Linked DNA regions of Homo sapiens: region 2 is linked to region 1. Evidence: fine-mapped expression QTL. Tissue or cell type: tibial artery. Region 1 holds a variant in brackets; the other region holds the start of a gene. All regions are shown on one strand. Distances are from middle to middle.

Region 1 (4,242 bases):
TAGGCTATCAATAACTATTGAATGGCTGCAACATCACCTGTTCTGTAAAGCTAGGCATACTTCTGAGTACACACTTCTCTAATAACGAGATTGGTTTACATGTGCAATCTCCTATAGAGTAGGAACTCTTTAGGGGAACTTCCCTCAGCTTGCTTTAAAAAGAGATTAATACTGTTTCAAGGATTTATAGTCTCAAAAGGAAATACCATAATATATCCTCTATTTTTTACCTGCAAGTATATTCTCTATTTTGTACCTGCAAGTAGGTAATAAATAAGTGATTGGAAACTGGATTAAATGCTCAATGCTATAGGAATCAGAGAGAATTTGGAAAGTCAAAAGAGGTATAGGGTTCCCAGTCAAGATGATGGGCCCAGCTAAAGCTCCAGCCTGCATTTCCACCTTAGGGTCTCTCAATGCTTGCATGGAGGTAGGGGCCCTAAGATTTGGTTAATTTAGGTTAACTGGACTCCTTGTGAAAAATTAAGATCCAGAAAAGGGCAGAATCATTGAAAAAAACTACCTAAGAGAGCCCAGTAATAGGCAACAATTTGCTTCTGGGGAGGAGAAATAAGAATGATGTTGGAGTATATAGAAAGCTATATCAAACACAATCAGTAACACTTTAAAATTTCTTAAAATTTATCTTACTTTATTTTTTTTTAAGCTTAAAACAACAGAAATTTCTTGTCTTGTCATACTAGAGGCTGGAAGTCTGAATCAAAGTGTCAGTGGGGCCATGTTCCCTCTTAAATTTGTAGGGGAGAATCCTTCCTTGCTTCTTCTAGCTTCTGGTGTTTGCCAGCAATCCTTGGGATTCCTTGGATTACAGATATATTACTCTAATCTTTGCATCTGTCATCACTTGGCTTTCTCCTCCCTGTGTCTTCACGTCTTCCCTCTGAGTGTCTGTGTCCAAATTTTCCCTTTTTATAAGGGCCTCCTTATATTGGATTAGGAGCCCACCCTACTCCAATAAGACCTCTTGTTAACTTTTGTTACACCTACAACAACCTTATTTTCAAATAAGGTCACATTCTTAGGTACTGGAAGGCTAGAACTTCAACATATGAATTCTGGGGTGGTGGTGAGGTGGGATGTAATTCCACCTTTAACGAGGAGAAAGTCAGAATTCTGAGGAAAGAAGCTGCTAACTTGTAGCCAGAGAATTGACCAAGAACCTTAGTAATTTTGCACATTTTCTTCTGTTTTCTTTTAGGCTCTGAGTCAATACAAGTAGGAAGTTCAACTGGTTCCCTGGGTGTTCATTCCTGGTTGGAGAGCTGTTTGGGAGGCTGGGAAGGTCCATTAGAAGCATAATTCTATTCCAGAGGTGGCTTGGCAGATGGAGCATATCATGGGTAAAGGCAGTGGTAAAGTCTTGGTGAGGCAAAAATAAAAGAGGTACATGAATCCAGACACAATTTGAAATAGATCTTTCTGTTCCAGGTTAATTTCTCAGCATGTCACAGAAAGCAATTCCTACTAGACCTGAAGAAAGTGGCTTCTCTCTTAACAGAATGTTATCTTCTTCTAGAGAGTAATATGTTTTTATTAAATAAAAAGCATCTAATAGTACACAAGTGTTTGCTACATTATTTTCTGTATTTTTAATAGCCTAAATATGCATCCATTATATAACAGAATGTTTTAATGCAGAAAGTAAGACTTGAAGCCAACCTTAAAGGACAAGTAGGATTTGGAAATGCAGTGATCAGGAAAGTAGCATTATACTGTTAAGCACAATATACGCATCTACCTGGCATACCTGGGAGACTAGAAAAACTCAGTACACCTGGTCATCCTGAGAAACAGAGGCTTCCTTTCATCCGTGGCCTGTTTTCATCTCTGCCAGACTACAGAAGCTGCCATTAAAGATGAGACACTGTATTGGAGACTCTGTCTACTACCCTTCCCTTGCAAGGCCAAAGATGGATTCCTTAGTTTTCTCAAATGGTGAATGAGTAACCTCTGTCTCACCAGCAGTGTTTGTCAGGCAGGGTGAGCTGG[C/T]ACACAGTGTGCCTGAATCCCCAGAGGCAGGATTTGGAGCCAATTGTCTATGCTGGGAACCCACAAGCCCCCTCAAGGGGGTTGTGTACACACTGCAGAACTCAATTCCCAGAGGCATGATTAACTTGAGGCTTGTAACTGTGGAAACAGTATTACAGTTTCAGACTGAAATGGTAAATGGGAAGTGAAATGGGAACTAAAGATTTAAAAATCACTGAAAAAGGCAACTTTGCAAAAATATGAAAGCTGTACAAAAGCTGTACATTTGAAACAGAAATTTAGACTACCCAACTATAGTGAAGAAGTGAGTTGAAGTAATTAGTTGAAATTGAAATCATCTGGTTCATTGCATCAAAACATTTGAATGATTTTCCTCAGTTCTCTGCTTGTCTGAGAAAAGCTGGATTTTGTAGAGCATGCACAGATTTCTGACTCTTCCCCATAAAAATAGTGATGCTAAAATATAGTACAAACAGATATCTATGTATTTGAAGGCCTAATATATGCCAGGCATTATATATGAGTGCAATTTGAGAAAAAGAAAGGATTCTAGATAAAAATGGGAATTTTATTTCAGACAAAATAAAAAATATATGACTTTATATAGTTAGAAGATATATGCTACCTCCTTCTGTCTGGATAGATGCTAGAAATGCACAGCCTCTCCTCATCCTATTATGTGAAACCATAACAAGTATGACAGGATATAAATTTTCACAGCAGTAACAAGGCAACAGCTTTCAAGTTGCTGTACAACATTCTGCGATATATTTTTGTTTGGATGCTAAACCCATTTGGTCATTTTTAACATTTAACATACAAATGATTTAACATTTTAATTTCAAAGAGATTAAAATGTTCTTTCCAAATGCAAATGGTAAGCCACTTTACAACAGTACATAATTTCATAGAGTTACTACATAAGAACAATTGAGTATTTTTATTGTTATTACAAATATATAAACATACAGAAAAAACATACAAAATTCAAAGTCTTCCAATTCTACCTATATTTAAATATACCAGGCCTCTGTCTTGTTAGATTCCTTTGTCAGTTCCCCACTACTGTTCCCCTCCACAAAGGAAATAATATTTTATGACAAGACTTTCTTTCTTTGGTTCCCAGACTGTCCACCAAAGTAGTTAAAGCCTATGGGCCTTAGGTACAAGTTGAGGTGATAGGATTGATGAAATGTAGCACTTTCAGGTACCAGCATTATGTTTGAATTATAAGTATGTGATTAGCTTTTAGCTATTTATTTTGTAAAGGATAATTGAATTATTTTTGCCTAGCAGGGAGGCAGTTAGTCCCCTCCTGAAGTTATTAGGCAGCCTGGACTTTCATTTGGTCATACCCAGTAAGAGTCAGGACCACACCCAGTGGTCCAGTTAGTGGGCAAAGGACAAATGTCCATCTTTCTTCCTAAGAGATGCCTCAAGGCTCCTTAGAGAAGTGCTGTCTCAATTCCCAACAGCCACAAAAGGACCAAAGCTTCCTTTTGGACCAAAAGCTTGCTAGAAGAAATCCATCCACTTCTAACTCAAATGTGCCCCCCAACCCTTTTTTTTTTAACCTGGAATCTTTAACTCCATTCTTGGCCAAGGAGTTGGAATGGCAAGAGATTTCCAGGAATAAAAGCAAAAGGTTCTCTGTTTATGCCTTTGAACTGAGTAGAGAACGCTGACCTGTTAGAGACATTTTATGCTTTCACCCCTTCCCTTCTCACAATTCTCTGCACTTGTCCTCTGCTATTAGTTACAGATTAATTATTTTTATTTCTATATTACACATTTCCACCTTTCTCATGGTCTTACACCTGCTTCCCTCTTCCTGAATGTCCCACTTACACTTCAAACTCAACATTACCCAAACTGAACTTACCTTTCTCCTTCTTCCTATCCACAATCAAATTTGCTTCTCTTTCTACATTCACATAATGGAATGAGCTATCATATTTGGGTATCATCCCGACTCTTCTTTCTTTATTCTTTACACCACCACCACGACATCCAGTGAATAGTCAAGTTCTGTCTATTCTACCTGCTAAATAGTCCTTGAATGTTGAACCCATATTTTCTTTATCTATATTTCCATCATTTTAGTTCAGATCATCACCATGACTAACTGGACTATTTGGCTAGAATCCTAATGGGTTGCCAGTTTTCTGTGGTCTCTAATTAATTCCCCATATGGACATCATAGTTATCTGTGTAAAATGCTATCCCAATCAA
Region 2 (4,242 bases), 150 kb after region 1:
GCGTTAGCTGGAATAAGAAAGTACCATATTTCACTCCTACTATTGTACACAGAGAATAAAATTCACCCACTCTTTTAAAAAAGATACTGCAAGGATTGTAATTTCAGAACAATTATTTTTACTCATTACCCCTAGAACATAGTATACACTCAGCAAATGTTGCTTGAAGGAATGAATGGATATGTGTGATTGGATGAGAAGCACACTCAGGGAAAATGCCTCGTCTCTGGTTGTTACAGGACTACTGCATGGACAACTGCTGTCACAGTAGGGTTTCTAAAATCTCCCTGCCATATTTTATTTTGGTTCATGTGTGTGTGACAATGATAAGGAATTCAGCCTAGCAAGTCTGTCTGCATTAAATAGAGGTGCTATGTATGCAAAAAGCAGGGACACCACATATAATATCTCTCAGGTACTTCCCAAGGTTTGCTTCCTCACGAGACTTGATATTGATTCTGGTGCCTCAAATCTATTTATATTTGGGAGCAGTCTCACTGTTACTCTTGGTTACACCTTATCAAATCTGTCCGAGGGACAGTGCCTAACCCAGGGTTGTCAGCTTTGGAACTGTAATTGTTTTTTTTTTTTTTTTTTTTTTTTTTTTTTTTAATATGCCAGCGGACGCTAGCCACGGTGCTGAAAGAGACAAGAGGATTCTATTTGAAACCTTTTCTTCCTCTTATTGGCTTAGAAAATTCGAGTGACAAGAGCAGGGGCCAAAGGAGCCTGGTGCAGCATCACTAATGTGAACCATGTATTTCGATCTTTTGGGCGGAGATGTGGTCCATCAGGTTACAGCCAATGCCTTCCTATGAGCGCTCGCTAGACCAAGAGACCTTATGAATGTAGTAGCCGCTGCAGTAGAAAAGGTTACATCTAGCAGGATGTCTTATCCCTCTCCTGAAAAATTGACAGTTAAGTGCATAGCCTAGAAACAAGAGCAGGGAATCTAGACGGAGGGGAGGCGAAGGGGGGAGCAAACCTGTATTCATATTGAAAATGTTCACTATTTTCGTATAAAGTAAAGAAAAATCAAGAGCTAATTTTAGGTTAAGTTTTCGGCCTCAGTTTTCCAACAGGTGCACGACTCCCTCACCCCTTCCCTGTCAGGTACTGTCCTGTTTTACCTTTTTAGAAAGGCTTTCTTCGCAAGGCAAGCTTTTCCTAGAGTCCTTAAGCATGTGCAGTTTCCCATCTCATGCACAGCTCCGGCTCTAAGCCTGGCAACCCCTTACCTGCAGCGTGAAGATTAAGGAGCAGGCACAGCGCAGGGAAGCAGACTGCTCTCCGCATAGTGTTTGCATTGAGAGGTGGAGGAGAAACTCCACCACGACCCCACTTCAGGTAAAGTGCTATTAGAAAGAGCCACCGCCAAGGGTCTTCTAGTCTCCGGGATTCAGGTCCTCGGCTGGGGTTTGCAGAGCAGTCAGTCTGTGGCGCCGACAGAAACCAGCACCAGCTTCAACCTCCCTAAGAGAGGGAGAGAGGAAGAGCAGTAGGAGGTTGCGGGTAAGGGGAACAGAAGCGCTCAGAGGCGGCAAATGCCTGGCCTTCTGGACGCCCAGAAGCCAAGGCGGAGACGGCAGGGTGGACTCCGCGCCAGCCCAGCAGCCCAGCAGCAGCGCCGCGGCTACTGAGCATGCCCAGCGCCGGCCCTCACGAGGCAAGGGAATTTCAAAGTGAAATTCCGCTTCTCCGGGTCTTAGCGGCGGCTTGGAGCAGAGTAGGCTCCATCGCTGGGGTGGTGGTTGGGGGTGGGGGTGGGGGTGGGGAAGGGGGAAGTGCGGGGGAGACACTTGCTGTGGTTACTAGGGACCCAGCGTCCATCACAAATCCGAAGGTGGGGTGTAGCTGAGTGAGAGTAGATGGGGGCACGACCACAGGAGTCAGAGGAGGGAGCTGATGACATTGTCAACCATGCCACCCACCCTACTCTTTCCCCAAATCTTGATTTACACGTGGACCGAGCTCACTGCTGGGAATTGGCATTTGCAGATTGACCAGCTTCCCAGGACTCGCCTACAGGAATAGAGGTGTCTTCCACTGCTGAGCATTCTGGCTGCTCGGGGGAAGCGTTCCCAAGGCAGCTTGCTTGGTGTAAGCAGTAACCATGTATCTTGGGGGTGACTTCGTCCTTCCTACAGCTTCCCCCTCTTTGCTTCTCTTTCCACTCTTTCCAGCTCAATGACTGTATTTAAACTTTCTTCTGACTCAAGTCCTCACAGTGACAGAAAGAAGTGAGAAGATACTTTTAGACTAGTAGAATATATCCATGTAATTGAAGCACAAGAAGGCACCTTTTTGTTTCGTGGAGGTAATTAACTTTAGTTTCCCTTTTACTCTTTAAGGTGAAAGATAATGGATCACGTCAGTGCCTGGACTCATCCGGCCCAGCTCTGTGTCTCTAGGGAGGCTACCACAGTCTGCCATTAGATGGTTTTTTATCCCTCCATCTAAGTCTTTGGAGTGTGGAAAGCCTTATTAGTCATGGCTAATTGCTGCTAGTCAAGTCAAGAAGTCCCTCAGCTAGACTTCTCTTTTAACTATCCCAGGGCCTCTGCCCTTTCTGCCTCTGTGTCTTTATGGACACTGTTGCCTCTTTCCCATTTTCCTCCACTTGCACCACCACCACACTAGTTTTCGAAGGTGTAATGTTGGTCTCACTTTTCCAGAAAGCCCTAACTCTAACTAACTCTAGATTACAGTGATCTTTCTCTTCCACAACACTTGTTTAGCCGTGCCTCATATTATTCTTTCAGACAGTTCATTTATCTGTGGTTTGTTCTACAGCACATTGAAGTCTCCATAAGAACTGCTGAGTTTTGTATTCCATTAACTTGAATAAAGTTGTCCTAGCCAAATAATTGGGGCTAACAAGTGCCCATTGAGTTGAGCTGCACATCTCATTCAGTGCTTTCTTTCTCCATCCTCTGTGAATTGAGACAACTAATGGGAAATAGGCTATCCACCAGAGCTTAAATTAGGTGGGACCTTATAAGATCAGAGAGCCCAGGCGGTACCATTTATTTCTTTTATGATTTATGTCATCTTCAGCTCTGAGAGACAAGGCCAGGAAGCACTCCAACAAGTGGGAGAAGGGGACAATGAGATGTACTTTTAATATCTTGACAGGCCTTCTCTGCTGAAAATAGAGACATATCTCCATGTCTAGCCCCTCTCTAGCAACGTGCTCCACCCCCTACTCCCCCATGCGTGTGGCACACTCCATTTCTGTGGCACTATCATTTCATCCCAAACCACTCTAAGCTGCAACCTCTTCTCCTATTCCTGATTCACTGTCCTCCAGTTTGCTTTTCCCGTATCACTTTCTAACAAACCAAAATAATTACTTATAAAATCTATTGTTTAGTATCTATTTCCCTACTCCCCCCCGCAAAACAGAATTTGAGCTCCAATGTTGAAGAACTTTGATGACTTTATTGATATGTCCCAACTCCCTAGAGCAATGCCTCATGCAAAATAGATACTCAAAAATGAATAAATGAAAATGATAGTTGACAAAGTTCAATACTGACAATTAACTCTTTGAAATTCTTACTGAGTCAACCTTTGAGATAATTTATTTAGCATTCTGTAAAGCTTAGAAGAATAACTCTTCTCATCTAACATCTGTTACTAGAAATGCTGCAGGGCTGGAGGTTAGGGAAAAATAATTGTATCCCACTTACAATAGGTCTATTTTTCTTATTTTCTTGTTTCCTAAAATAACTAATTATCAAACTTACATAGATCTCCAAGAATAAAATATACTTACTTATGGTAATGAAACAATGCTGCAGTAATGTTCTGAACCCCTTCCTTTTCCACAGATAATTCCAACATTTATTGGTGGGGCATTTAAAATTCCCATTATTATAATTGACTATGACTTTGCCAAAAAGCATCCTGCTGGCAATGTATTTTGTTCAGGGCTGCAGGTAGCTGAATTGTTAAACTATGCATGAAAATTCCGTTAGCAGCAAAAATTTCCAATTTCCAATTTGGCTGGATATATCATTAGAATAGTTAGTTCAGCATGGTAAAAATAACCCTGAGTGGGCTGTAATTTTGGTGACTAGACATTCATTATTAATTTACTTAGAAATGATAAAGTAACGAAAAAGGTCATATTCCTATGTGAGTCAATCTAATATCATACTTGTAACGGCTTCAATTCACTTTTTCACTAATTGGCTAATTCACTCATTGCTGTTCGTGAAGTCAAACAGCAATGAATGA

The links. PIP is the estimated chance that this variant, and not a neighbour inherited with it, causes the effect.
Region 2: PTPRR starts here. The variant in region 1 is the best candidate, but not a certain one, in a credible set for the expression of PTPRR in tibial artery (GTEx, PIP 0.51).

Annotation. Positions count from the first base shown.
Region 1 is chr12:70,772,218-70,776,459 of GRCh38, forward strand. All of the region lies in intron 2 of PTPRR (protein tyrosine phosphatase receptor type R), which reads right to left. LOC124902960 (a long non-coding RNA gene) reads left to right here. Exons shown (of 2, transcript XR_007063361.1): 2 at 1,220-1,580. Among named protein-coding and RNA genes, the nearest start is that of PTPRB, 140 kb to the left of the region's middle. The variant C/T (reference allele first, on the strand shown) is at 2,011.
Region 2 is chr12:70,919,095-70,923,336 of GRCh38, forward strand. It overlaps PTPRR (protein tyrosine phosphatase receptor type R), which reads right to left and starts at 1,644. Exons shown (of 14, transcript NM_002849.4): 1 at 1,239-1,644. The coding sequence starts at 1,296.